Linked DNA regions of Homo sapiens. The protein of the gene in region 3 interacts with the protein of the main gene of each other region in a pairwise test. Each region holds a gene or a part of one and is shown on either strand. Other genes may lie near its edges.

The links.
Region 1: the proteins of SLC34A2 (region 3) and AIG1 interact in binary tests that used the Homo sapiens proteins (3 or more experiments, as listed by UniProt).
Region 2: the proteins of SLC34A2 (region 3) and STRIT1 interact in binary tests that used the Homo sapiens proteins (3 or more experiments, as listed by UniProt).
Region 4: the proteins of SLC34A2 (region 3) and RTP2 interact in binary tests that used the Homo sapiens proteins (3 or more experiments, as listed by UniProt).
Region 5: the proteins of SLC34A2 (region 3) and SLC30A3 interact in binary tests that used the Homo sapiens proteins (3 or more experiments, as listed by UniProt).

Annotation. Positions count from the first base shown.
Region 1 is NC_000006.12:143,328,658-143,334,378, reverse strand, and holds part of AIG1 (androgen-induced gene 1 protein), read right to left. Parts: intron 1,098-5,721; coding exon 934-1,097; intron 302-933; coding exon of another isoform or gene 284-301; exon of another isoform or gene 1-283. UniProt on the Homo sapiens protein: Hydrolyzes bioactive fatty-acid esters of hydroxy-fatty acids (FAHFAs), but not other major classes of lipids. Show a preference for FAHFAs with branching distal from the carboxylate head group of the lipids.
Region 2 is NC_000003.12:155,289,383-155,295,647, forward strand, and holds STRIT1 (sarcoplasmic/endoplasmic reticulum calcium ATPase regulator DWORF), read right to left. Parts: upstream 4,302-6,265; 5' UTR 4,251-4,301; coding exon 4,238-4,250; intron 1,657-4,237; coding exon 1,562-1,656; 3' UTR 1,558-1,561; intron 1,465-1,557; 3' UTR 845-1,464; downstream 1-844.
Region 3 is NC_000004.12:25,668,156-25,673,876, reverse strand, and holds part of SLC34A2 (sodium-dependent phosphate transport protein 2B), read right to left. Parts: intron 4,231-5,721; coding exon 4,035-4,230; intron 3,140-4,034; coding exon 3,044-3,139; intron 2,277-3,043; coding exon 2,156-2,276; intron 791-2,155; coding exon 623-790; intron 1-622. UniProt on the Homo sapiens protein: Involved in actively transporting phosphate into cells via Na(+) cotransport.
Region 4 is NC_000003.12:187,698,389-187,704,660, forward strand, and holds the start of RTP2 (receptor-transporting protein 2), read right to left. Parts: upstream 4,170-6,272; 5' UTR 3,741-4,169; coding exon 3,577-3,740; intron 624-3,576; coding exon 110-623; 3' UTR 1-109. UniProt on the Homo sapiens protein: Specifically promotes functional cell surface expression of olfactory receptors, but not of other GPCRs.
Region 5 is NC_000002.12:27,255,771-27,261,423, forward strand, and holds part of SLC30A3 (probable proton-coupled zinc antiporter SLC30A3), read right to left. Parts: intron 3,165-5,653; coding exon 2,983-3,164; intron 2,561-2,982; coding exon of another isoform or gene 2,538-2,560; coding exon 2,391-2,537; intron 2,289-2,390; coding exon 2,135-2,288; intron 1,583-2,134; coding exon 1,384-1,582; intron 1,124-1,383; coding exon 1,018-1,123; intron 751-1,017; coding exon 616-750; intron 1-615. UniProt on the Homo sapiens protein: Probable proton-coupled zinc ion antiporter mediating the import of zinc from cytoplasm into synaptic vesicles and participating to cellular zinc ion homeostasis in the brain.

The DNA.
Region 1 (5,721 bases), on a different chromosome or scaffold from region 3:
GTCTGATTCCATTGAGCTCCTGGCAGGGTGTCTGGCACAAAGCAGGGTGCTCAATGTCTGTGTCACAGAGTCCATTTACTGGGGATGTCTAGAATGCTGTGATTGTGTCAGAGGAAAGAGCCAGGGCTTCCTAAAATCTCCAAACCATCTTGCCTTTGGATGTATTTTCATGCAGGACTCAATCACTACATGTCTGTGCTGGCGCTTTTTCCACCTTTCAATTTTTATGTTATTGTACATACACTTTGGACAGGTTTTGCACAGCTTGGATAAGATTACGTGCCTTGCCAAGATGGAGGCTCTGCCATAAATGGAAACAAAAGAGAAATCAAATCACAGGTTAAAAGAGTTTTTCCAGCCACGAAATATTATCTTTTACTGCTTGTAGCTCTTTGCCACTTTCAGACTTTCCGTGACAGCCACTGGTGAGTCAAGGTGGCCGGAGCATCACACACTGCTTAGATAGAGCTCTAGCAGAATGGTAGTAAGACCTCTCCCAGGTGACTGCACCCACATAGAAAGTGGAGATCTGGGTGACTTTAAAGGAGATTGGTTACATTTAATAATGTATCTATTTAATTTGAGGTCCCTTTAGCTAACTAAGGCAGCATTGTGTTGTTAATGAGGACAAATTTCCCTAATATATATTTTTTGCTAACACTACATTTTTCCCTATAAAATTTTATAGACATGCCTCTTTCCTCTTTAGATTTGGAGGTTTTACTAGCTAACAAGACCAAGTGACTAGTAAAACTTTCAGGTAACTGTCAGCAGCTCTTAAATTCATATTGTAGTTTTAAAAATGGAGCTCTTTATAGGAGATCCTGTGTGAAGGCTAAAAGAAGAGGCTACAGTGGAATTTTCCCTCAGTCTCTGCATAGACTGTTGCCGGCAGTAATTCTCTTGTTTTATGTTCCCTCAGACAATACTTACTTTTCTGTGTATCCCAGATATAGTTGTTCAGAACTTCTCCCAGCAGGTACAGGAAGTTCATTAAGATGGTTGTAGACCCAAAGAAGATGATTCTGGCTCCTGGGCCAATGTGTTCCAGGAAAGGGTACACCCACATGCCAGTTACATGATGCACCCAGCACACCCTGCAAAAGAATCGGAAAGGAGACAAGGACAGGAGTCACTCTTATGGCAGGCATCAAAGCTGCTATGATGCAAATATACACTCCCTCACTCTCCCCATGCTTCAGCATTTGCCAGTCTCAAGTTCGCTTCTGATACTCAGGAGCTACTGGAAACTTGGTTGCTGTTTATTTTCATTTACTTTTTATTCTGAAATAATTTTAGACTCACAGAAGAAGCACAACACACTCAGCTTCCCCTCATGTTAACATCTTGTATAATCCTGGGACAATTGACTAAAATTAAAAAATTAACATTGATATGACAGTACTAAATTATAGGCTTTATTCAGAATTTCCCAGTATTCCTGTGAATGTCCTTTCTCTGTTCCAGGATCCAATCCAGGACCCCATGTGGTCTTCAGTCTTCACATCTCCGCAGTCTCATACTCTGGCAGTTTCTCAGTCTCTACTTGTCTTTGATGATATTTGAAGGGTATTTGAAATGGCTGACTTTATTAACACTGTTAAACAATCTGGTCATGTATTTGAAATGGCTGACTTTATTAACACTGTTCAACAATCTTTTAAATCTCTTCTTTACAGAATGAGACAATATGGCATTGGGCAACCACAGGAGAATAAGACCTAGGTGAGTCTGTGCCAGATACCTTGCCATATGGCCTTCCAACTAGACACCAACACTCATGCCATATGCTGACACAACCATGCATACCCTAGCAGGTACCAGCTTCCCACTCCTCTGATCTTCAGATGTGACATTGATTTCATTTTTTTTCCTATTTTACATTCTTACTTAATCATTCTCTTTGTGTTCCAGAAATATTTTTGACTCAGTGGGAATAGTAACATCATGAATTGCCACTGCTTTCAAAAGTTTAGTTAGAATATCGGCTCCATTGGCTTGGTCCTGACATGACTGCTTACAGCTGTTTTCCAAACATTCTTGAGTTCATTCCTTTATAAACTGTTGGCAATTGTGAAGACTAAATAAAATACAGATAACTCTATTGCATTGGGAATAAAGATGACTTTTCATACTTATGTGTTCTGAGGTCATTTTCCTTATCCTTGGCTTCACTCTAAGTGGTTTATCTACATATAAATATTACTGACAGGGTGCAGTGGCTCACATCTGTAATCTCAGCACTTTCGGAGGCTGAGGAGGGTGGGTCACCTGAGGTCAGGAGTTCAAGACCAGCCTGGCCAACATGGCGAAACCCCATCTCTATTAAAAATACAAAAATTAGCTGGGCGTGGTGGTGCGCGCCTGTAATCCCAGCTACTCGGGAGGCTGAGGCACAAGCATCACTTGACCCTGGGAGGCAGAGGTTGCAGTGAGCTGAGATCACACCACTGCACTCCAGCCTGGGTGACAAAGTGAGACTTGGTCTCAAAATAATAATAATAATAATAATAATAATAATAATAATAATAAACATTACCTACACATGTACCTCATTTTTGGCAGGAAACCTGGGGATCTATACCTGAGAACCTGCGTTATCAATGAGGGTGAGATCCCCCCTCTTCTTGCAGGCGAAAATTCATTCTGGGGTTGGTGGTAAAACAATTTTGCACTTTTTATGTAGAAAGCACAGATACACACACACACACATATACACACACACATATATACACACACACAGATGTACATATATGTATATAGAAACACATCAGTAGGTGAACAAACAATCAAATGTGGCATATGCATGCAATGGAATATTACTCAGCCATAAAGAGGAGTAAAATGTTGATACATGCTACAACATGGATGGACCTTGAAAACATTATGCTAAGCAAAATAAGCCAGACACAGGTCACATATTGTATATGATTCCACTTATATGAGGTACCTAGAATAGGCAATTTCACAGAGACAGAAAGCATGGTATCTATCAGTTACCAGGGACTCGGGGGAGTGGAGAATAGGGAGTTATTGTTTAACGGGAACAGAGTTTATGTGGGGGGATGATGAGAAAATTTTGGGTATAGATACTGGTGATGGTTACACAATGTTGTAAATACATTTAAGGACATTAAATAGTATACTTGCAAATAGCTAAAATGACAAATATTATGTTATGTATATTTTAGCACAATAAAAAATGTTCCTGTGGTGGAAATTAGGAAAAAAAAAACAGGTCTACAAAGGTTCCTTGGTAGAGGGAAGTAGTAATGAAAGAAAGATTGAGGAACAATCTTACAGCAAAGAGGCATTCTCTAGGTCTGTCCAGGTCAGTCTCAATCACTGTCCAAACAAAAATATTTGTATCAAAAAAAGAGGCCATGTTAGTCCAAAGATTCTGTTAGAAAAGCTGAAGCAGTTGTGAGAATCCGCAGAAATTAAATGGTTAGAACTACCCTGTGGGATTCTGAGATATCATATTGTTTGTCCATAAATTAGAAGCAGTTTCATCATTCTGACATTGTCTTAAATAATGTAAGGAAGGTGCTGTGTACCCATCAAATGGTTTATTAATTTCCATGGAGAGAATATGCAATATTCCCCCAATTTAACACCATTAAGCTGTAATTGATGTTGCAAATCAACTTATAAAATTTTAATCAGTCTGTGCTACAGGGTGTTTGCACTGGAGCAGTCGGATGGATCTGGATTAAATGTGAGTCAGGCCATGCCACTATTCTGCTCAAAACTTGCTTCCTCTCCCACTCAGAGTACAAGCCAGAGTCCCTAGATGGTTCTTCAAGGCCCTACCCCGCACTTTTCTGATTTAATCTCCTGTTATTCTCCCCATCGTTCCCCGCCACTCCAGCCCATCAACTCCTTGGTGTTCCTCGAACACTCTAAGCTCTCTCTGCCTCCAGGCTTTTGTATTATTCCCCTGCCCAGAACAATACTCCTCACCACCCCCACAGCATCCCCTTGGGCTCCCTTGTGTCCTTCGGGTTTTCACTCAAATGTCACCTTTCCAGTGATGTCTTCCCTGGCCACTGTATCTAAAAATTGCAACCTCTACCCTCAAACTCTCTATTCTTTCATCCTTTATTTTTTCTCCCAGCCAAATAATATACTCTACTTATTTTTATTTGTCTGTTTATTGTCTATTCAATGAGCAAAGGAATTTTGTCCAATTATGTTCATTGCTGTATTCTGTGGTTCTTGGAGCAGTATCTGGCAGAGTATGCACTCAATAACTATTTGTTGAATTAATAATCTAATGAAGGAATATAAACAGCAACATCTGTTTATTGAGCCATTACTATATGGCAGGCACTTCGCCAATAACTTATGAATTTTTTTTAATCTCAAAAAAAACCTCCAAAATCTTTATGCTTTTTGTCACTATATTTAATTTAAGTCAGGAGTAGGGAAACCTTTTCTGTAAAGAACCAGATAGTAAATATTCCCATATGGTCTCGATCACACCTACTCAACTCCGCCATTGTAGTGCAAAAGCAGCCATAGACAATATGTAAACGAGTGTGGATGTGTTCCAATAAAACTTTATTTATAGACACTGAAATTTGAATTAGATGTAATTTTCACATCATGAAATATTCATCTTTTGATTTTTTCAACTATTTAAAAATGTGAAAACCATTCTTAGCTTTTGAGTCATAAAACAAACAAACAAACAAAAATCCAGGTGGTGGGCTGGATTTGGCACACCGGCTGTCATCTGCTGACTACTTGTTTAAGTAGTTCTTTGTATTTCACAAAGTTCCTTCAGCACACAATGTCATCTAGTCTTCTCAGCAATTCTAGATATAGCATGGCATTCTCATCGTACTATTGTATGAATCAGAGCTTATAGGGTATAAATGAGACTATGTCAGAGCTGCTAATGTAATGTGAAATTCTCAGGTTTGCAACCTACGAGGCAGAGAAGCAGACAGCTCTTCTGAGTGTGGTGCTTATAAACATGAGATGTAATCTCCTTTACTTTGTACAACCACCCTATTAGGTATGATTATTCTCTTTAAACAGGTAAAGAAACTGAGATCAGACTAAAGAACTTATCATAAAACTGGCAAAGCTGGGAAAGAAGTGCACATCTGATTTCTTTTTTGCTGCATGGACTTGCTTCCCTAAATGAGGCATTCAATATTGTCTCCAAAATGGAATTGAGCGTTTCTTGTTTGTTTTGGTTTGGTTTTCTTAACTTGTTAGGTCATCAAACCATCTCAGATAAAGAAATCCTGTTATTTGGGGTTTCACCTGGATCAGTGTGAATGATGCATCCACTTGTCTTAACAAGTTGTGCTTTCACCATTTGTTTCCTTGATTTTTATCAGGGCTCAATTCTCTGCACAAAGATGACTCATGGCCTTGCCCATCTATCTGGAGAGTGCTTAGTTCTTGGCTGACTTTTAATTTCTCTCCTTCTAAGGTCTTCTTGTCTTAGTGATCAAATAACATATGCTTATGGTCATGGTACCAATTTTAATTTTAGCTTAAGAAATCAATAACCATGATATGTGTGCATACATATATATGCACATATTAGCATAATAAGATTTTTGGATGGTCTATTTTATTAAATGTACCTCCGTTTGCATTCACGTTTATGTACAATTAAAAAAATAACATTTATTCATGCCTCCTATCTGAGTGCTTTGTTACTCACAAATGATACAAAGTAAATGGCTTATATGAATGAAT
Region 2 (6,265 bases), on a different chromosome or scaffold from region 3:
TTGCAATTCAGATTTAATATCACCAATTATTTACTTGAATTTATGCTGATGATATGAATTCAAACCAACCATATCAATATTACCATGAACAAAAAGACTACTGAATGTGGTTAAGATTTTTATCCCATAAGAGGTGTACAGTCAAATATGCTGTTATAAAGATGTATGAAATATGTCTTTTCTCTGTGTGGTTATGCCACAACTTGATATACTCTCATATTTGCTTTAGTTTGTTTTCAATTTTGAGAAATTATTTTTTTCTTTTTAACTTATAAAATAGTTATATGATTCCAAAAATAAGAACTATAAAACAAGGCATATTCAGAGATATCTAGCCTCCATTTGTTTCTCCTCAGTTTCAATATTCTAATTTCAACAAATACATGTACACATTGGTATAGCCCCTTCTTCTCTCATATAAAAGGTAGCATACATTGTCCTATACCTGGCTTCTTCACTTAACACTTTTGTCCTGGAGATCTCTTCATATCAGTATCTAAAAGTCCTTTTCATTCCTTTTTACAACTGCGTAAGTACTACATTATGTAGACATACCACAGTTTATTCAGTTAATCCCCTATTAATAGATATTTGGCTTATTTCCAGGTTTTTGCTAAACAAATTATGCCAGAATAAATAGCCTTGTATATGAGCCATTTTGTATTTTTGCTCATGTACCTGTGGAAATTGCCATATTCCTAGAAGAGGGATAGCTAAGTCAAAAATTAAATATATATGTAATTTTGATAGATATGTACTGCCAAACATCCCGCAAAATGTACCATTTTGAATTCCCAAAGACAATGTATGAGAATGCCTAATTGCACACAGTCTTACCAACTCATATGTTGTCAAACATCTTTATTTTTTTCCCATCTGATAAGTGAGCAACAATTCCTCAGTGTAGTTTTAATTACATTTCTCTTTTTGTGAACAAGAGATTAAGTAAGTGTACTTTTACATTATATGTTCTCTGAATTGTCTGTTTTTATCTCTAGCCCATTTTCTTTCTTTTTTTTTTTTTTTTTTTTTTTTTTTGTAGAGATGGGGTCTCTCTCTGTCGCCTAGGAAGGTCTCCAATTTCTGGGCTCAAAGGATCCTCACAAAGTGCTGGGATTACAGGCATGAGCCACCTTGCACAGCCTCAGCCCACTTTCTCTATAGTTTTTTCCAGAGGGAAGGGGGGATAATTTTTTGTAATGTGATTAAATTTATCAAACTTTTTTTAATGACATGCATTTTTCATCACAGCTAAACATTTTTCTCACTCAGAATATAGAGAAATTCACTCATAATTTCTTATTGTCCTGAAGAAATTCTTATGCATACCAAAGTGCCAGTTTATGATCCAAGTTTGTAAAGTGATGTCAAACATTGCATTGTTTAACATGAGACATTTAATAATCAGTCATGTTCATAGTTTTCTTAATTCTTCTAAATGATGTCAATCTGATATCTTCTTGCCTGAAAGACAAAACATTCCATTAGTAAAATAGAAAAGATTGTTTCTGGAGTAATTTAGACTATAAATAAACATTCAATTATTAAAACCCTTACCTTTCTAAGAGAAGACAACATAAATCATTATGATGCAGCCCACAATCCAGCCAATCAGGAGAAGAATAGGAACCAGAAGGTGTGAAAATGTAGACCCCGCTTTAAAATAAACCGTAGAAAACAGATTATATTGGTCATTTTCATATTAAATTTTCTGTGTCAAGAGAATAAAAGGAATTTGGTAACATTAAGAAAAAAGCATACACTCTCTAGTTATACCCATACATAATTATTTTTTCTTTTCTACAGAGAATACGTGAGACTGTCATAAACCCTGGGTATTTTGAATCAAACCATGGGTCTTTTACTGTTATGTGACCTTTGGCAATTCTGGGCTTGAACTTTCCTACTGGTAAAATATGAATAATGAAACTTGTGCTCTCTACCTCCTGGAATAGTTTTGAACATCAAATGACATAACATATGTGCAAAGCTTTGTAAACTCTAACCACCGTGTGTGTTTAGTGTATACAGAACACATTCATGCATTTGTGCAATAACATATACAGCAGCTATTTATATAAAAAACAATCTAATACAACTCTGAGGCAATTCCCACTAAAGTAAATAATTATAACACAAGGAAAGGTATTGAGAACTGTCCTTGGCCTCAATAGCTGAATGTAATTTTAAATATCACAGGGAAAAGGAAAGTATCATACATTATGTAACCATTCTTGACTACAGAAAAGAATTTCTATTGTTTAAAAATTGTTCAGTATAACAACCAGCACTGAACCTGAATCAATGGGCAGTAATAATCCAACACACACATAAATGGCGTTTGTTATATATGATTCCTTCTGTGCCTCCTATTTGTACTCTTACCTGTAAAAAGCAATTTATACAAGTATCTTTTTTAAAGTATGCACTGCATGTAACTCTTGTTCTTTCAAGCAAACATACACAGGCATACACACAGAAATCCACACCTACATCACACAAAAAGATTTAGAAAGAGCGCAGAAAAACATTCTATGGAATTAATGTCCCTGTGTTAAGGACTCAGATATATTCTTAACTGCAAAGCATAATTAGATCTTATGCCATTAGTTAAAAGAGAGAATGCATATTCTTAGCAATTATACTCCTATTACAATTTCCATCACTTTAAAATGTGAAATTTTTAAAAATGCTATTAAAATAAAATCATCAGGAGATGAGACACATTTAAAATTAGAAGACACTTTTATAAAAGCAAACTTTCTGAAGTTGAAATAAATTTTAATACTTTAAATCAATTTTTCCAAGAATGCTAGAGTCTCTCTTAACTGACAAAATTCAACATGCTTTTCTTGTTTCTCCATCTCACTGTGACCTTGTATAAGGCATTAAGCACTAAATGGAAAACTCTTCTCTTTACTTGACATGTGGTATTGCTTAAGGATAAAGCAAACAACATGAGTTGCCCTTTACTCTCATTTGGACGAAAGCCTTTTTATGAATTAAGGTACCATTACAATGGAAGTACATAGCAGTAATTTTTTTGAACTGTCTAGGTATGTGGCTTTATATTTTTCCCAATTTCAAAGAATTTGAAAATTAATATTAACCCTTTAATTGTGCATTTATATTTTATACATGCATATTTTAATAAAATTTACATATCACAAAGCCCTAAAAGTATCTCATTATTTACTTTCCTTGTAAAATAGTACCAGTAGCACTAACTGTGCATTTTAACACCCAAAGTATACATTCCATTGTTTTTTTAACACTAATGTTTTCAACTTTACTAATACCTGTGGAATTGTTTGGAAGTAGAAATACGTAAGAGCACAACATACTTTGCATATGTCACTTACATTACTAGCACAAATAAGAACAAAACATCTCTTAAACATGAAGTGTAATTCTAAAATGCTTCTCTCTTGTCCAGTTCTGAGCATATCAAAGTAGTTACAGCTGGAAGTGTTCTTGAGGACACTGTGCTCTGGAAAAGACTGTCCAGGTTAAACACCTGGTGCCACCACTCTTTAGCGATCATGAACAAGTTACTAAACTGCTGTGTCTCCATTTTCTTATCTATAAAATGGGGATGATGATGATATGCATATTTCACAAGGTCATTGTCAAGATTCAAAGCAAAAATTCCTGTTTAATATTTAAAAACCATTTCTTAGATACAGTATATATTCAACTTTTTGACAAATTGGAATCAATTATTTTATATAACTATAAAATATAAATACAAAAAAATGTTTAAAAACCAGAAAAAAGTTAGATGTGGAACAAAAATTTTAGGTGTGGAATAGATGCCTGAGCCCAATATTCTCATTTTACTGTCAGAAAACAGACTCAGAGAGGTATAGGGACTTCTGCAAACTCACATAGCCATTTACTAGCAGGTCTGACACAGAACTTAACTGTCTTCAATTCTGGCTCAGAATTGAAATCAGGAGAACTGATTTCTAACTCACCTTTCAAAATAAGTATTAACAAAATTAAGCTCTTTTCCTTTGTTGATCATTTTAAAATTATTCATAACCTATAGACCTGATCCATAGATTACATAATTAATGCATTTTTGCAGCCACACTAACATATATGGTTAATGGTCATTTAGCATAGATATCACATTTTTTAGAGTGACTGGGAAACACCAAGAAACATAAATGAACCAAAGTCAAGAAGCCTTTTTTTTTTTTTTGCCAAGAGAATCCTATGCCTTAAATCTTACCTTTTTCAGCCATTATTCCTGTTGGTGGGTGGCTAGGTCAGGCCACGCTTACCTCTTTCTTTTGTTATCCAGCGTCTCTTTGAACTTTAAATAGAGAGAAATCTGAAGATTGCGGCAGCTGCCCGTCTCCTGGCTGCCAATTGTCTGCAGAGTGATGTAAGTCATGGGAAAGCAGAACTCCTCTGGCTCTTTATTCTATTATTATGGAGGAAACGAGGGGCTACATGACCTAAACAATTAGGTAAGCTGAATTATCCTAATGCAGATATTCGCAGGTTTTTAATTTGCACCATGCCTTTAGGTAACATGAAGAAAATGTTCTATAAAGAAGGTGTACAGAGGAAAAACAACATTCCACCTATACAAGTGCTATCAAGGAGAAGGGTGATATATTAGAAAGAAAGGATTTTGATGTTGGAGAGACTTGGGTTCAAATTCCAGCTCTTTCTGTAATGAAAGCCAAGTTGCTTAACCTGGGAATCAGCTTCTTTAGTTTTAAAATGAGGATAATAATACCTACTCATGGGAGTCGCATAAAGATGAAATGAAAGTCTGTATGAAATGTAGACAGTTCTTTATTACTTTACAGGTGGAAAACATAAAATGAAATGGTGCCCCTTTCTTTGAACTATTCTAAAACAAAAAGTGTTAATATAAATGTACTAGAAACTAAAACAATACAGACGTCGCCTAGAATTTTTAGGAAGCAGTCATAAGCTTGTTGTTTTTATTAGCAATGTATAAAAATAGGACATTTCATTTTTCAAAGTCCAAACTGGTTTATGTAACTGACCTAGACTATTCTCTATATTCTCATTGGAATAACTTTAAATTGGGGATCTGGCTGGAAAAGTTTTGCAGAGTGACCCTGTGAGCATCTTCCCAAAAAAAATTTGACATAAGATTAAGACCTGTAAAGGCAGGTCTGGCCTGATCAAATTTATCTCCACAGAGTTCCAAGAGTGATATTGCCTTGCAAATGACCATGTTCCATCACTGCTCAAAAATCCACCAATAGTTCTTCATCTCCTAGACAATAAAAATCCCAACTCTTTGTTTAGACACCTAAAAACCCTTATTTCTCTACTCTTCCATTTGCAGTGATAACTTCAGTGACACTGAACTCCTTGCTATTATATGAATTCAGAATCCTCCCACTCTCACAGGCAAGAAGAACATTTGACTTTCTACCTCAAATAATGTACCTATAGATTAGAGTGTGCAGCCAAGAATCTGGCACATTTATATCATTTATGTCAAGTTGTCATCTCTCTCCTCAGTCTCTCTCTCAATATATTATTTAATATTGAAAAAATGTCTGGCTATGTCAGGTAAGCAGAAAAACTACGTATTGTTTATGCAACAAAATCCCTTGCTTACCTGGCAAAGTTGGGTATTTTTTTCAATATTAAATAATAATACGTTAAACAAAGGTTAACTGAGGCCAAAAGAGAGAGAAGAAATAAAAATGTTATTGATCTCATTTAAATATAAAAAATGTTAATTCAGTAAGTTCAAATGAACACTAATTATCTTAAGGAAAAAAATGATATTTAAAACAAACAGTGTGGTACCCACAAAGAGCACAAACATACATAATAAAATAAAATAATTTGCCTGAAACATATGAAAAGGTTTCTACATTTTAAATACTCATTTCCATTTCAATTATATTAAGCTTTCTTCTTGACATGAAATTGACTATTATTAACATTATTGCTGTCAATTTGGAGTTTGAGGAGGGATTAGTTTATAATTCATCATTTATTTTCCTTACTTTTCTATGGAAAGAAGAAGAGAAAAAACTAACTTAATCAACATGAATTTCTCAGACTTCAGAAAAGAATTCAACCTAGAATCTCATTTCCTTGGTTATATCATCAGTAAATTTTTTAAAAAATATAAGTTTTATAATATTTAATCAGGAAAGGATGTTTTATTCATTAATAGACTGGTTTCACTTTGAGCTTATAAACCCAAGGGCCTATATTTGACCGTTTTCTAATCTTTCTCTTAGGACATACTAAT
Region 3 (5,721 bases):
CTCCACCCAACTAGCACCGGATCAGGCCCTGCATTTCCCAGAAGCACCCAGAGTTGCTCTGTTCCCCAAGACAATCTGGGGTGGGGGGCGAATTTTCTTGGCTATATTTCACTGAGCTTTCATGAAGTGATGATGTCATTGGCTTAGCGAGCTCTCATTGGCCAGGACACCCTACTTGGCAGGAAATCCTCTTAGCCAGCAGTCTCATTGGCCACCTCTAGATGCTGATGTATTTATGCATCACATTTCCTTTACAAGAGTGAAGGGAGGTGGGGGCGAGGGCAGACACCTGGGGTCCTTTTTCTAAGGGGTCTTGACAGAGCCAGTAAAGCTCTGAGCATACAGGAAACCCGCTAAGAAGGAAGGCCTGACTCACAGCTCTCTAGATATGAACTCCTGCTCAGGACCTTGCCAAGATGCAATGGAAACTTGGGCCTGCTCCCTAGACCCCACCCAGGATGCCAAGAACATTTCCAGGTGAATGACATCCTCACTTCTGGTGCTGATCCAATCTGAGAGAGAAACTCCATGCAGAGGCCATTGCTAGATGGGAATCTAAAGGACCCCCACACCCCATGCAGTGACTACATGTGAGGCCTACAAGTGAGGGCAGTGTACCTACCAGTGTTGATGGTCTTCTTGATGACAGTGGCGACCTGCCCCTTGAGCACAGAGCCCAGGATCTTGACAATCATGATCAGGCAACCACAGAGGACCAGCAGGGAGAGTATGAGCAAGATGGTGCCCACAGCAAGATCCGGGAGGTGGAAATTCACAAAGATATGCTGGCCTGAAAGACCACAAAGAATCTTGTCAGGAGGGCATGGAGCCACCACGGCTACAGATTGTTATTTATTCCCCCAGATCCTGTCTTTCCTACAAACAGATTCCTGGTTGTTAGTTTAACAGATGGCAGCCCCAAATCAAGACAGCCCTTCTCAGCCTCCTTCGCAGCAAGGGGCACCACTGAAACTATGTCATAATCAGTGGGATCGCATGAGGCTGGAAGATGAAGTGATGGCTTTAAAAATCACACAACTGTTCAGGGGTAGACTCAGCCCAGTTCTGTCTCTAAAGACCATGCTGTCGATGGTCTAATTTTTTTTTTTTACTAATGATAAGTATGCTTTGAGGGATTCGATGGGCAAGTCAAAGTAAGGGGCATTGCTAATTATAAAGCCCCTTCTGCATCCCCCAGATAATCCCAGCAAAACATGGTTATATGAATGAATGTATAGTGCCTAGAATGTGGGAGGTGGTAAGTTAACTTGATTCTTTGGGGTAATCATACCTAGAGTATTAAGATATAGTGCTCAGAATTAATGTGGTGGGAGGGTGAGAAGAGAGAAGCAGAGATATACAAAAGTATATGTAAGGAGTAATTAGAATAACGAAGGATGGCTGGGTTGGAAAAAACATTACAGCTTCTTAATAATCAGAGCATCATGCAAGCTCACTGCCCGTTCAAGAGCTACAGCCCCAGTGCCCTGAAATGGGGCCTGCTGTACAGTAGGGACTAATTGAGTGAATACATCTGTTCTATGTGGGTCCCACATCTTCCTTCAAATCGGGTTGTCGTCTCCCTAAAGTTATTTTATTTTGAGACAGACTATCTCCCTGTTGCCCAGGCTGGAGTGTAGTGGTGCAATCTTGGCTGGAATTATAGGCTTGAGCCACCATGCCTACTTTTTTTGTATTATTTTTAGTAGAAACAGGGTTTCACCATGTTGGCCAGGCTGGTCTCAAACTCCTGGCTTCAAGTGACCAGCCCATCTCGGCCTCCCCAAAGTGCTGGGATTATAGCCTTGAGACACCATGCCTGGCCCCTAGAGTTATTGACTAAAGGAATCTGAACAAAGCATGTAGAGGGAATCCTCTAGAATCTGTTGAGCTTTTCTGAGGTGGTGTGGAGCTGGCAAAGGAAATGGACTTCAAGTTCCAGTTCTGCCCTTGCTGTGGGACCTCAGGCCTGTCACCTCAGTTCCTAAGCCATAGTTTCCTCTGCTGTGAAAGCATGTTGCTCACTGCTTGATGTAGGGCAGGTGCTTGGTGACTCCTACTGTCCTTTCCTTCACTTACTGGGACTTCACACGGATAAATAGGTCACCCCCAGACAACACCTGTCATAGTGGCCAATCCACTGAGCTCCACTCACATTTGGCGATGTTCTCCTTGTAGGTCACATTCTTCATGGTCCAGTTTTGGATGCCATCCGTCCAACAGAGGGAAGGGGAGGTGCAGTTAGCAGTCGAGGGAACAGTGACGTTAATCTGGGTCTGGATGACAAACATGACAAATGCCCACAACACTGGCTTTTAGTGGGGAATGGGAGGCAATGGCGGGGGTGGGAATGAACAGGCGCAGACACCACCCATGGTGCATGCAGTATGGCCCCAACAGAACAGTTCTTTTCTCTTGAAGACTTATTTCTCACCTTTATTAGAAATCTTAGAATAACTGAGGACAACTGAAATCAGCCTTCATCATTTAAAAACATCTACTTTGTTTATTCTAGTCTCCAGTCTTTAGCACCCCACAAAAAAAATACATGTACACCCCAGAAGCAAGGGCAAGCCACAACCCAGGTGCAAAGCAGCCTGGGTAGGTTCCTGACAGAGGGCATGAATGCTCTGGGCCCGAGCAGGGGGAATACTCTGGAAAAGTCTGGAAAGTAAGAGAGAGGACACTTGCTGCCAACACCCGTAGGGCGTGCTGGACTACTTCCACAAGTCTCTCCAAAAATGAGAACAGAGCGGCAGGCAGAGCTAAGCCTTCTCCAAGAGGCATGGAAATAACAAACCAGAAATAATGTATCCCTGGGATGGGGCAAAAGGGAGTCTGTCTGTCCTACTGTTTACCTGCATTTGGCATTCATTCAAGGACTTGTTTTCTAAAGGCATTCACTGGTCACTTTTGATTTTTCAGGGACTCCCAATATTTCTTTCCCCTGACTTTCTATTTACCTTCCTTGAAGGCAAGATTTAGTTTCATGTTCAGATGCAAAGGTTCACTCCCCGCCCCGGGAATATTCTTGGAAACGTACCTTGTTGGTAAAAGTTTTGCACCAAATCTTGACAAGACTCTTGTTTTTCGCTTTTTCATCGTTCATTGCAATTTGGCTGATAACTTTTTTATCCAGCTGTGGAAACAGTAGACAGGAAACCATCAGCATATCCTCAGAACCGATTTAGGACACAAACCCAGGGGGTTGAAGTGAGAGGGGCTCTAAGGAGATAAATGTGACTGTGAGCCCCCAGAGAGGCAAAGTGGGACTCACTCTATCTGCAGAGGCACTGATATCTAGGGAGCAGACAGTAGATATTTTCTGGATGACTGAATGGCCAAGAAAACCAGTAAGAGTGAAAACACAAGGTCCTAGCAAGGACCCAGGGAGAAGGGGCTGAGATGACTCTAGGCAGGAAAGGGTAGATCATACTTTATCAAGTCCACTGGTGTTGAGGACAGCAGTGGGAACAAAGTGGTCTCAAGTGTCCAGTCTTAAGAAGCACCTCCACCCCAATAAAGGTGGCATGTTATGGAAGTCAAAGTAACCATCAAGGTCAGTCACTCTATCAGGTGGCCCAAAAGTTCTGCCTCCCTTGGCCTTTTCCAGAGGCAGCTACAGAGTAGTGTTTATTCATCTATTTATTTTTTAAAAACAGTCTCACTTTGTCACCCAGGCTGGAGTGCAATGGCACAATTCTCAGCTCACTGCAGCCTTGACCTCCCGGGGTTCAAGCGATCCTCCTTTCTCAGCCCCCACATAGCTGGGACTACAGGTGCACGCCACCATGCCCAGCTAATGTTTTGCATTTTAGTATAGACAGGGTTATGCCATGTTGGCCAGGCTGGTCTCAGATTCCTGACCTCAAGCAATCCACCTGCCTCGGCCTCCCAAAGTGCTGGGAAAACAAGGGTGAGCCACCATGCCAGGCCCAGAATAGTGTTGTAGACACTCTATATCTGTCAGCTCAGGTAGGGGATGTTGTGGGTAGGAAGTTAGTCTCCTTCTCTCTCTGAAGGAGCTAAGTTACCTGGACAATGAGCTTTGTGAAGGGCTTAGTGATGACTTTCAGAAGATCTGGGGCATCTTCTCCATTCTTGAAGTGGAAGCTCTCCACTATAAGCTGGGTTATGATCTCGAGGTAATGGGTGGCCACCTCCACGGGCAAGAGCACCAACACGGACAGCCAGTTGAAGAAGTCATGGACAGTGGCTCCTGCAAAAGCTCTATGGGAGGGAAACCCCGACAGCCAGATTAGTCACTAAGCAAGTGGGCACCATGTGAGGTGGGTCATTACCTGTATCATCTGCCACCCTCTGCTAGGTGTCACCTATGGAAGTGTGCACATGTACACAATCTCATTTTTGTTCTCTCATATCGATCCCCAAAGTGGCTGGTATCTATATTCCCATTGGCCAGATGAAGAAGCTGCGGGCCAGCAAGCATGTTACGGCTGGAATAATTAGCTCAGCAATCACTGTTTCGAAGAATTGCATCAAGGGCACTTTTGTATCATGTATATTGAAGGCTACCTTCTTTTGGAAAGGTGGGGACCAGTATGAAGGCAACCAAAGCCCTCTATGCTGGAGTTTTCAATTGTTCCAAACACATAGAAATCATAAATCCCCAAAGCGGTGGGCACCTCAAATACCCTGATTTGATCACTACACATTCTATGAATGTAACAAAATATCACATGTTTCCCAGAAAGGTGTAAAAATATTTTGTATCAATAAAAAAATTTAACTTAAAAAGACCTCTATGCAAGTGAATTCTTAAACTTTTTTTAAGTTCTTGAAAGTGATGAAACATGAATAGTTTCCATGGGAAACAAGGCTAAAACATTTTGCATCCATCTGAGGAGGTTCAAAGATTCCTCCTCGATTCCATCTTATCTCCAGATTTAAAAAACTCTGTTCTGGATTTTTATGTCTTCAATGAAACAGCTTACCTTTTAAAAAAAAACTGAAAAAAAAAAAAAACTAGCTAGAAGAGGCTAAGAAACACTTAATTTTCACATTAACCTTTTTGAAAGAAAAGAGTTTCCAGCATTCTACCTGCTCTAGTTTCAGAGTTTCTGCATACGCAGAAACTAGGTTTTGTTTTTTATTAACTTGTAAGTGAAGAACAAAGAAAAGGTGGCATGGGTTGAGCTGACCGAAAGTGGAAGTTTAAATAAGTTATAATTATGACCAAACAAAACAGTATTTATTTATTTTTTTTTTTTTTTTTAGATGGAGTCTCACTCTGTCACCCAGGCTGGAGTGCAGTGGCACGATCTCGACTCACTGCAACCTCCGCCTCCCGGGTTCAAGCGATTCTCCTGCCTCAGCCTCCAGAGTAGCTGGGATTACAGACGCTGGCAACCACGGCCGGCTAATTTTTGTATTTTTAGAAGAGATGGGGTTTCACCATGTTGGCCAGGCTCCTGACCTCAGGCGATCCACCCGCCTGGGCCTCCCAGAGTGCTGGGATTACAGGCATGAGCCACCACGCCCAGTCCCAATAAATCCTACTCTTCTAACTGGCCTTGCTTCAATTCCGCCACCCAGCGGCTAAGTTTCTAGCTAGAGTTTGCATTTATTTAGTGAACTCAATGTGCTGGGTGCTCTGAACACTCACCTGCTGGGTTGTATATTTAATCCTACAACAACTCAGTAGTGATAGATAGTATTATCCCTGCTCTGCCGATCAGGGAGCTGAGTCTAATCAGCTGG
Region 4 (6,272 bases), on a different chromosome or scaffold from region 3:
GGTGACCGGATTGTCCAGTCATATGTTGAATCTGTAGCAGGATCAAGTCCAGACTGTGTCCTCCCCACTCTCAAGCCCATGTGCCCTCTCCCACCCTTAACCAGCTCCACTAAAAGAAGGCAGGACTGAGGAAGGAGAACTGCAGGTAAACAACGAGCAGGCAGAGAGAGGCCCAGAAGAGGCACCAGCGAAGAGACAAGAAGTTGTAGCCGGATCCCGCCTGGGCCCTCGGCTTGGAGGCTTCAGAGGTGTAGGTGGTCACCTCCTCCTCCAGCAGCTTCTCGCTGGGCTTCCAGTGAACGATGCCCTCCTGGCAGGCCTCACAGAACTCTGCACGATGCGGCCCGCTGTCCGGGCGGCTGGCCACGTGGATGCGGTACTGGCCACCATCCTCCTCGTAGCACTGCTCGCGCAGGCTGGTGATGAGGTTGTCCACCAGGCCCTCGATGTTCTCCTCCAGCATGCTGGACTCGTCCAGCCGCGCCGTGCCGCACTCATAGCACAGCTGCTTGAAGACGCGCATGCGCACCGAGCCCGCCCGCTGGGCGCGGTCCAGGAACATGTGGAAGAGGATGACCACATGGGCAGACTGCCAGGTGTGCCAGCACCAGGAGCAGTGGAACCTGCCGGGAGGAGAAGGAGGGGTGGAGAAGGTGGGCATCCCAGAGAAGCCTGCCCTGAGAAGCTCTGAGAGGGAAAAAAAAGCCTGTGTGCCCGTGCTTGGAGATGGAGGCAGTGTTTACTGCCCTGTGGATTCATTAGCACTCCAAGGCCGGCCTGCTCTCGCCTCCTCCTGGTGAGCACCCCTGGGACCCGAGCAGCATCCTCAGGAGCCAGTGCCGGAGCCATCTGGCATCCAGCAGTGCTCTAGAGCGTGCCTCCTGCGGTCTCAGCTGCCCCCCAGCCCGATGCACTCAAGGTTGCACCTGGGCGCTGTGCAGGGTCATCCCCCCCTCTCTGGGCTTCATTTCTCATTTGTGAAATGTAGTGTGTTGGCGTCCAGTAAGGGTCCTTCCTCTGTGACCTCCTGCGACTCTAATAAGAAGGATGACATACACCATCTAACTCATGCATCTTGCTTACTTTGGGGAGAAGAGACGCCTCTAACTGTGCCAAGCACAGACCCTGGCACACTGTAGGTCCTCAGTAAACCACTGAGAATGATGGGATGGACAGACCGGTAGATGGGTAGGATCAACTGGCTTTTAGGAGGAACTACCAAGTTTAGTTACTACATCTTCACAAAGAACACTCCCCAGTCTCTTGACAAGTCTTCTCTAGATCCCACTCTAGCCCTGCAGTGGGGACTGGAAAAGAGGGTATTCATTCCCATTGCCACTCCACACACACACACACACACACACACACACACACACACACACACACACACACACATATATTTTCTCTCTCTCTCTTACATGCACAGAGGCCACTTGGCGTAACCTGGGCTTTCTAGAGTCCCAGTCTCAGGAAGTGTTGTGGGTGGTAGCCTGGGGCTCATCTAGGCAAGCCCCACTCACTCCGCCCCCACCACTGCCTGCACACTTTCAGTGATGCAGCACTCCTGACCTCCAGGGCAGTTCTTTCCTTCCCTGAGATGAGCCTCTTCCAGGCCTCTGTTATAGAGGCTTCACAGGCAGTCAGATGTCCACTGGGCTGTCCCTGTCCTCATCACTGGCCCTTTCTGGATCCATTGTATGATGGCCTTGAAGGACTTCTGATTAGGAACTCAATTCAATCCAACAGACACCATTCAACACCTCCCATATGCCAAGCACCACTCAACCCAGGCTATGGGATAGAGGTGAGGCCAAGCCTGGCTCTGACCCCTGAAAGCCTGATCACATGAGCATAGAACAGTACCCAGAATGGCCCAAGGTGGGGTTGGCAGGTCAGAGGAACCTAGCTGGTACTGAACCAGGAGAGGTTCCCCGCCCCCAGTGCTGGGTGAGAGCTGCAGGGCATCTGCCTGTTTAGAGACAGAGTGAGCCTGTGCACAAATAAGCTCATGGGCAGCAGTTCTTCAGCTCTTCCTGAGGCCAGCTGGGAGCCACAAGTCACCAGCCAGGAGTAAGAGGAGCTGACCTCTGAAGCAAGAGGAGACATGAGCTTGCTGAGCTCAGCCCCGAAACTCTGGATCCTGGGCACTCAAGTTTCCAGGCATCTGCACCTCTTCCACCAGGCAGTTCAAATGCTTTATGTTTTCAGTCTCCTTCTACACCTTTTTACATCAAACCAACCCAGAATTGCTTCACCTACATCAAGTTAGGCCTCACATCTTAAATTCAAAAATATCAGATCTGGGGGCAGGCGAGCTTAAGAAGCATCTAGTCAGCCCTTTATTTCACTGAGAAGAGACAGAAGCCCAGATAGTAAGAGAGGCATCCATGTACACACAGCTAGTTAGAGGCAGAGCCAGTGCTCAGCACATAACAGGTACCCAATAGATGCTTCTTGAGTTGATGGAACTGACATGAATCAGCCAACCTCTGGTTTTCTGTCTTTTTTTCACAAGGCAGGTTTACTCCAATAATTCCAGGTCTTGGGACAAGAGTACAAACGTAAGCTCCCTACCCACATCTTGCCTCCTCTGTTCCCACCCTCAGCACCATTCTGCACCATGAGAAGCTTCACACACATACACGTGAACAACCCAGCCTTTGTGTCCATGTTCTGGCTACATCTCCAGAGCACAGCCACTTACTGGCCTCTCTTGAATCCAAGGACACAGGAAAAAGGCCTGCACAGACACTACAGATGGACTTGAGGTAGTCTGGGGAGGAATTTCTGTAGTCCCAGTCCCCAATCATGATCTAAAAGGAGGAAAGGCATGTGGACTTTAGACGGCCTCGTCCCCTTGGCCTCAAGGACTCTTTGCCCTGTGGTAGATGTGCAGCTCCTATAAAGAGTGGGACCCTGGGCTCTAAGTTCCTAAAGAAAGTTTTGCTCAAAGCTAAATCTTTTTATCACAGGTGCATAGATAATAGAGCTAGAGTGGATTGGATCTATTATCTAAGACCAACCCCCTCATTTTGTAAATATAAAAACTGAGAGCCAGAAAGGGAAACAGACTTGCCAAGTTTACAAGGCTACTTAGCTATATAGAGCCAGTTCGTAGCACACAGCAGGTGGTCAATAAATGTTTATGTATTCAGATCAAATTGGATTAATTCACTAAACATATCTAGGAACAGAGCATAGCTGTACCCCCTGCATTCCCCCAACTCCTAGATTAAAACTTTCCCCAATGGACCTCATGGCCTCCTTCCTTCAGTTCCAACTCACTCTAAATGTCAGAGATTGCAGGGACATAGATGATATTACAGCTCTTCATTTAATGTGGACAACTAAGACCCAAAGATGGAACATAACTTTCTCAGGGTCACCCAGGGAGTTAGTGGTATTGCTAGGATTAAAAGCAAGAACTCTCTGACCCAGCCGGCTGTCTTTGTCTTTTTCCCCATCTGAGCTGACACCAGAATAAGCCCGCGACTGGGCTCTGTCTCTCCTTGGAAAGTACCCCACAGCTGTGACCCAGGGGCTGTCTGCAAGGTCCCTCCCCACTGAACCTCTCACCTGCCTGAGGCGTGCTGCTCCAGGTACTGCTTCCAGCCAGGGGCCAGCTCACTGGGCTTGAGGTTGGGGTCTATGATGAGCTCCCAGCTGTCCGCTGGCTTTGCCACCTCCATCTTCTCATAGAAGACTTTCTTCCACTCACAAGTGGTCAAGCTGGTACACATGGTCCTGCTGGCAGAGGTGGCAGTTCGAGCTCAGCCCTGGTGAGAACACAGAAAGAGCACGGATAGGTACGGGACAATTCAGTGTCTACGGTCAGAATCCTCATCGGCAGGACTGGGAGTAAACAGGACCCAGCTCCCTCCTCTGTTACCCTGGAACCTGTTACCATGGTAGCCAGGCAGGGCACCAAGAGTGAGGGCTGGGGAGAAGGGAAGCCCCAAGGGGGAGTTTCAGGGCCCTGAGTTAGGCTTCAGAGGCAGCGCTGGGTAGGCCTGAGAGGAGCAAGCACAGTGGGAGGCCCAACCTCAGACCACACTCATCTGGATTTCCAGAGGTCTCCAGGAGGCAAGGACTATTTGGTGGCCCTGCTTCACCCAACTGCTCTTCTAGCATTCTCCACATCATGTGCTATGGTAAGTACGACACCCTAGGAAGTCAAGGAGAAATGAGGGACAGGGAAAGGCAGAGCCTGCTGCTTCCACACCCCCTGATATGCTGTGACCATCACTTACCATGTGCCTAGCACAAACCGCTTGACCTGTGTGCTGGCCAAAGCAGATCAGATCAGGAAACTGAAGTTTATGCAACCCCTAAGTGGCTCATCCAAGATTCAGATCTAGGCCTTCTGAAACCGAGCTCATTTGTTTATTTATTTTAGTACTATTGTGCTCCTAACAGGGAATTGAGTGAGAAGTAACATCTCTTTGCCCAGGGCAATCTTAGACCAGTTGGTGAGCTAGAATGTAATTTCATATGCCATGCAAAGCACAGTAATAACATTTCAGATTCATAGCGTCATAGAACTGTTAGAGCCCATATTCAGTTCCTGGTCCCAAGCCAGGCTAAGGTGGCTGCTGGGGTAATGAGTTTGTTCTGTGCTGCAGGCTCCTGCTGCCTCCATTACTGCTGAGCTGGAGCAAGAGAGCATCCGTAGCTCTGTGATGCCCAATTCAAATTCTTTAGAAACCAGAGGGGAATCTGACTTCAAATTTGGTAATCCAAGTGAAGACACGGTTACCTGAAGGGAGGCTGCCTTGAGCATGGAAAAGACCAGGCATATGGCTGCTTACCCTAGCTTTGGTCCAACTTCCAACTGTAATCATCTTACGATTCTTTAACCCGGAAGTCTGGATCCCTAGACACGCAGAGTTCCAACAGTAAAGAGCTTCAAGAAGTGAAACAGGTTGCTAAGAACCGGAAGCTCTTGGTGTTGAGTTGCCAAGTGGTTTTCAGGAAGTGTGAAGTCAGGGACAATGTCACTGGATTCTCTCTTGAAATGAAAAGTGTTACTCTAGCGGCTTTGTGCTAAAGACCTCAGAAAGGACACAATTGTCTTTGAACCATTGACTGACAGCTCTAGAAGAGCTCTTTTATTTTTAAAAATCTGGTTTATTTCTTGAACTCTTCATTTCTTAACCAAAATTTATTGACATTGAATTAAAACAACTGAGGCCTGGAAATGGAAAATTACTGGCCCAGGCTCTCAGGACTGGGTAGCTCAAACCTCACTGGGGATTCCCTTAGAAGCCAGTTACCAGACCAGGTGAGACAGAGGGATCCATGAATGGCCAGGAACTGAACGAAGCTGAGATGAGCTTATGGCCTGGCCTAGACCCTCGTGCCAGGAAAGAACCTCTGAGAAATAGTATACCCTTGTTCCCAGAACAAATGGCAATAAAGGAAAAACAGAAAGAGGATGAGAATTGTCAGGGTTTACCTGTATTTTCTTTTTTCCTCAAATAATGCAATCCCCTTAGGCCTAGTATCAGGTTTAATTTAGCATAGCAGCTTCTAAGCAGAGACCAATAGAATTCATCTTTCTGTGTAACAGCACTGTTTTCACTTTTCATACAATCAGTGAGCACAATTACTACTTCAATTTTCCGCGAATGACACTATCTTATTCCAGAACCCACGATTTAAGAGCTCACAAATGTATATTGTGTACAGCTGTGGCCACATCACACTCTGGCAGCTTCATTATACATATTTTGTCTAGGCAATACTTTTTCAAATAAAGAAATTGTTATTTCTTTATAAAATAAAATACTGAGCACCTGTATTCTGCAAACAAATCAGCAAGGGGGAGGGGATGGATAAAAGAATCACTTTTCCCCTTCAATTTGGAATGCAAGTTAATGAAGAGCTTTGTAAAATATTTATTATTCAATTTTACTTATTAGAGTAATGTAAGAAATGCCAGTGTGGAGCTTAAAATGACAAAGTAATGAAGAGTTGAAAAGGTGTGTACATCAAAATCACCTGGAGAGTTCTGAAAACTGTATACACCTCTGCTTCAGAGATTTCAATACATGTTCTTGAGGAGACAAATTTGCTCTCCACCTACTCCAGTCCTGGGAAGAATCCCTTCTATTGCCAGCCATTGTTACTGATGGGATATGTTGTCCCACAGGCTACTGGAGGCCAAAAATGAAAAACAAAAAAAGAAGATTGAGTAAAATGAGCTAGTGGTTTATAATATTTCTTTACCAGGAAATAGATCCAGGACAAATGCAAGGTGTGTCCTATCTTCT
Region 5 (5,653 bases), on a different chromosome or scaffold from region 3:
TATCTGTCTCATTGTCCCTCTAGAGTTTCCATCAAATATCCCACAAATTATAATATTTTTGGCATACAAATTGCATGACTCTGATTGCTTCTTGCATCTGGAAGAAACTCAAAAATCCTTTGTCAGCTCATGACTCACCATATATATTTTTAATAGTTGAATCATAATGTAGATGCAATTTTATATTCAGCTTTTTTCTCAGCATTATACCATAAACATTTTTCATAGTTGCTGTACAGTCTTCACAAGCATCATTTTTAACAGTTATGTGATACCTCAGGGTGGAGGTGCTGTAATTTACCTAACTGTGCCCCATCACTAGACCTGTAGGTACTAATGATCTTTTAAAGGGTTGTTGGTTCCCTGTGCTACTTCAAAGAGGGTGAAACTGCCCCCAGAACACTGCATCCAGTGGATGGAGACTCCTTGTCTCCAACATGCACGAGCGCACGTGCATGTGTGTGTGTGTGTATGTGTCTATGTGAGAGAGAGAGACACAGAGAAACAGAGACAGATCAAAAAAGACTGAAACAATTCCAGTAACTCAAGCTATGGTCCCATGTTTGGGGTGGGGTATGTTCCAGGTAGTAACTAGCTGGGGCCAGTGTGACTCACCGATGGCCAGGTGTGCAGAGGCAACATGGTAAGTGAGCGTAAGGGCCCACAGGTGCAGCTCATGGGTTGCCCGGACTCCTGGCACCGACAACAGCGTATCCCGCACAGGTTCGAACCCCACATTGCGGGGGGTACCTGCAACCAGCACCAGTCATGCCTTACTGCTAGGGCTACTCCTGCCCAGAAGCAGCACCCCCACCACTGGATTCCACCTCCCCTATCCTGTATGCACTCTCCTTTTGACCCCTACAATTCACCCTATGCCCAAATCCTTGTTCCAGCAGCAGACCCCATGAGCCAAGCCTTCTTCCCGTACTATCTTCAAAGAAAAAAGTGATGGCCCACTGCGAGAGTAAAGTCAGAGAGGGCCACAGGGATGGGGAGCTGTGGTGCCCGACTCACCTTCCATGAGGATTCGAAGAACGTCTCGGAGGGTGGGAGCGGTGGATCCAAGGGCACAGATGGAGAAGAGGAAGGTGCTGATGGGGTCGGCTGCCTTGTATTGAGGCTGCAGAGAAAGAGACCCCTAAGCCCAACAACCAGGGACCTTTCAGAGGAAGATCTAGGGGTATCTTGAACAAACATGACCTGAGAGGCCCCTCAAAACCCTGAAGAGGGGACAGGGAACATGACTCATGTCTGGGAGAGTCCTGGGAGGTGGGAGGGAGGAGCTGGAGGGAGGAGGAAGGAAGCTTTGGGACCTGGGAAGGAGTGGGCTGGGATGTGGTTGTGGGGAGGAAGGCTGGGGCAGGTCTCCAATGATGGTACCTTGAAGTAGATGAGGATGGAGGCAGCCAGTACCCCAAAGCTCTGCAGGAGGTCCCCCAGCACGTGCACAAATGCCGCCCGGACGCTGGTGTTCCCCAGGGGCAGGGGCTCTTCAGGCCCCTCCTCCAGCGGTGCATACTCTGCTCCCCTAGACCCGTGGCTGTGGGGGGGCCCAGCCTGGTGCAGCACAAAGGCCATTCTGAGGGGTAAGCAGAGCACCTCAGCCTAGGGCCCTGCTCCTGGCCTCCTATACCCCCATCTCCATGTCTCACCTCCCCAGTAGCCCTTTCCCAGCCCCTGGAAGAAAACAGCATTTTGCAAGAGAGATAAACAATGCAGCCTGGGGGAAAGAATACCAGACTTGGTGCCACACATGTGGATTCGGAAGCTGGCCCTGTTACTTAAATAGATATGTGACTTGGGCAAGTCACCTGTTGGGATTGACTGCATTAATGGTAAACTAGGGGTAATGCTACCTACCTCATGGGGTGGCTGTGAGGTTTAAATGCAATCATGTTGATGAAAGCCCTCATCAGAGTGGCTGGCCCATGGCAGGCCCTTGACAGAGATCTGCTGACTGAATTTTAGGTCTCTATCCCAGACCCTTCTCAGGCACACGCAGGGCAGCCCATGGAGAGCTGTGTGTGCGTGTCTGTGTGTCTGGTGGGGAGGAGAGAGCCAGCTCTCCCATCCTGGAGGAAGACCCCTCGCCCTGGGCCCCACAAGGTGCCTGCTCCATACTGGGACGTACAACAGGTTGGCACAGACTGCGATGCTGGCGGTCAGCAGCATGGCACCCCCCTCGATGTGGTAGTCGCTGTGCAGCAGGCGGACGAAGGCCAGGTACAGGAGGATGCCAGTGACCATCCAGAGGGAGACCACAGAGGCCAAAGCCCCCAGAGTCTCTGCGGGTGGGGGGGGAGACAAGCTGTCAGAGACCTGCTTGGGACCCTGACGGGTGCCCTCTGGCAAGATTGGAGAGTCACTGGGCCATGCAGGGGCCTTACCTGAACGGTGCCAGCCAAAGGTCATGGTGCGGGTGGCTGGACGGGTGGAGAGCCAGAGGGAGAAGAGGCTGCCCATCATGCTGCCCACATCCGCCAGCAAGTGGGCTGCATCGGTCATGATGGCCAGGCTGTGTGCCAGATACCCGCCTGCCAGGGTGAAATGATGGAGTCTGCTTCCATTTAGAAAATATCATGTAGTGTGTATAGGCATGGAAAATAAATTGGGGGATATACACCAAAAATGTGATTTGGGGTTTTCTCAGGTGATGGGACTACAGGTATAATTAACTACTGTTATGTTATTTTTTTCATTCATCTGTATTTTATTTTCTACAATGATTTATTTTAATAACAAGAAAATAGGGTTTTTAAAAGAAGTCAGCCCTGACCTACTGGCCCCGGACCTCGGCTGGAATTCCCTTTGTTGCTGTCCCTTATCCCTCCTACTTCCTGAGTCCTGGGCACCCAGCTCCCCTATCCCAGCCATCCCCATCTCTGCATCTGCACCCAGGAACATTCCTGGGACTCTGGGTGGAGAGTGGCTTGGGCAGGTATTTGGAGAATGGGGTTTAAGGGCTGCTCCCCAACTTACCGACCACCTCCCCAGCCATGAAGACAAAGCAAACGGCACAGGCAGCATATAGCTGCCTCCGTGCATGCAGCCTCTCAGGGGTAAGGCCCGGCGGCGGAAGGGGGTCCCTGTGGCAGTGGTGGAAGGGCATCTCCACAGGTTTGGACTCCTCAGGGAGGGGCTCTGAGGGCTCTGTGAAGAGACTGAGGCAAGCAACATGGTTCAACCTGGGCCTGGCCCACAGGCTGGCCTGCTCACTCCACGTCCTTAGTCCCCAGTGCTGGCCTCATCAGACCATCTCCTTCCCCAGGCCTGGTCGTATCTGGGAGCTGCATCGGCAGAGGGCCACATGAGAGACCGGGGCTAAATGAACAGGTCAGAGCCCAGCCTCCCTTTTCCTTCCATACACAGAGCCATAGAATTTCACAGCTGGAAAGCACCTTACAGACGGTCTAGTCTAACTTTTTTAAGAGATGGGGTTGGCCGGGAGTGGTGGCTCACACCTGTAATCCCAGCACTTTGGGAGGCCAAGGCAGGCAGATCACAAGGTCAGGAGATCGAGACCATCCTGGCCAACATGGTGAAACCCCATCTCTACTAAAAATGCAAAAATTAGCTGGGTGTGGTGGCACGTGCCTGTAATCCCAGCTACTTGGGAGGCTGAGGCAGGATAATCACTTGAACCAGGGAGTTGGAGGTTGCAGTGAGCCGAGATCGTGCCACTGCACTCCAGCCTGGCAACAGAGTGAGAGACTGTCTCAAAAAAAAAAAAAAGAGATGGGGTCTTGCTCTGTTGCCCAGGCTGGAGTGCAGTGGTGTGATCAGAGCTCACTGCACACTTGAGTTCCTGGCCTCAAGCGATCCTCCTACCTCAGCCTACTGAGTTGCTGGGATTATAGGTGTGAGCCACCGCACCCGGCTCTCATCTAACATTTTATTAAATAAATTAGAGGCATGAGGCTCACAGAGTTGGGGGACACATGGAGGCCAACCCAGTTAGTTGCTAGAGCTGAGACTAGACCCCAACCAATTTCTTATGCTAGGCACCCCAAAATGAGCAGGATTCCTACTGATCTCTGAGAGCTTTTGGTGAACAGGGCAAGCATGTACCTACACAATGATATAGAGCGAAGGTGGCCACTGTCATTAGGGCAGTTAGAGTGCTATCAGGGTTCTGAGGATGGAGGGCCAGACTAATTATAACGAGGAAATCAGGGAAACAGCTGTAAGAGGTAACATGAGAAGGGCCTTGAAGGATGGGAAGGATTTTGATAAAGACAGGTGAATGCTATGCCAGGCACGCCAAGGCAGTATGAAGGGAAGGTGGAGTGAAGTGTGGAGTGGGACTCAGCATGTGTTCCTGGCCTTGGTGTGCCTCCTTTCCAGGCCCACCTCCCAGAACCTCCACTCCTGGATCCTGCCCCCGCCCTCCCTAGACATGAAGCTGAAGTGTGGCCCTTTAAGAGACGAGCGGGACATTGGGGCCAAAAAGTCTGATTCCGGGCACAGAGAACTGATGGCTAGATTCCAGAGCTGGGGTTGTCATGGGAGGAAGGGGTGCAGCCTGCTATGGCTGAGGATGGCAGTGGGAGGAGCATGTTAATTGGACTTCAGTCCGACTATAAGCACCCAGCAGAGCCCACCTTAACTGCATGGTACCATAAGTCTCCCTTGACAAATGAATGGGGCTTGGGACCTCACCTGGGGATGCCAGAGGCTGAGTGAGGTCAGGCTGAGTGCTAAGTCCATTCTGGTCCAATTCTCAGCCCCACCACTACCCAACCTGAACCCAGCAAGGACAGAATTTTCCACAGAATTCAGGACCTGAATAGAAAATACAGTACTAGAAATACTCATGGAGGTGTGACAAGAATACCCACAAGTAAAAACGATGGCTCCAGATAGAAATGTGATCATAGCAGCAAAGTGGGGCGGGATGTCTGGGGCCTTCTGGCTAAAGACAATTCTGCCAAGTGGGTGAACTGAGTTTTGAGGGAGGTAGGGGGAACATTTGGTGCTTGTACAGAGAACTGAAATACTGGTAGATTAATTTCTTGAATTTCCAAAGCCCCATCCAAGACTTAGAATCTGGGCGTGTATGATTCTGGATGTGTTTCCAGAGGAGATGGCGTGGTGAAGGAGGCTGTGAAACCGATCCTCATTCATTCAATGAGGTGCACCAGGCAGAGCACACATAATGAAGCCTGGTCTGGTGGGAAAGACAGATTGTAACAAATGGCTTACTACATAAGGACAGGTTGATGCTAGGAGGGTTATGAACAAAGCACTTTGGGGTGCAGGGAAGGGAGCACTCCCTCACAGCGGGCTCGGAGAACTTCACAGAGAAAGGTATGTTTAAGGAGATGAGACCTAGTTGGAGAAGGGTGTTCCAGACATGTAGAATGACAAAGACGAGGTTTGTGGCTTGGAGTCTAAGCGTGAAGTGTCAGGGGAGGGCTGAGGAGGAAAGTGATGGGCTCAAAGGAACATAAAGGGAGATACACTGACTGCTTGAACAAATATCTCCTGAGCACTGAGATGACCTTGCTGATGGGAGGAAGAGAGGAGAAGAGAGGAAATGGAGGGGTCTAGAACAAACCAGGCCAGAGCTTCCCTGGAGGGGCAGGTAGGTTAGGAAATGCCTTTCAGAAAATGCTGCAGGATTCGGTGACTAATGGTCATATGAGTGAAG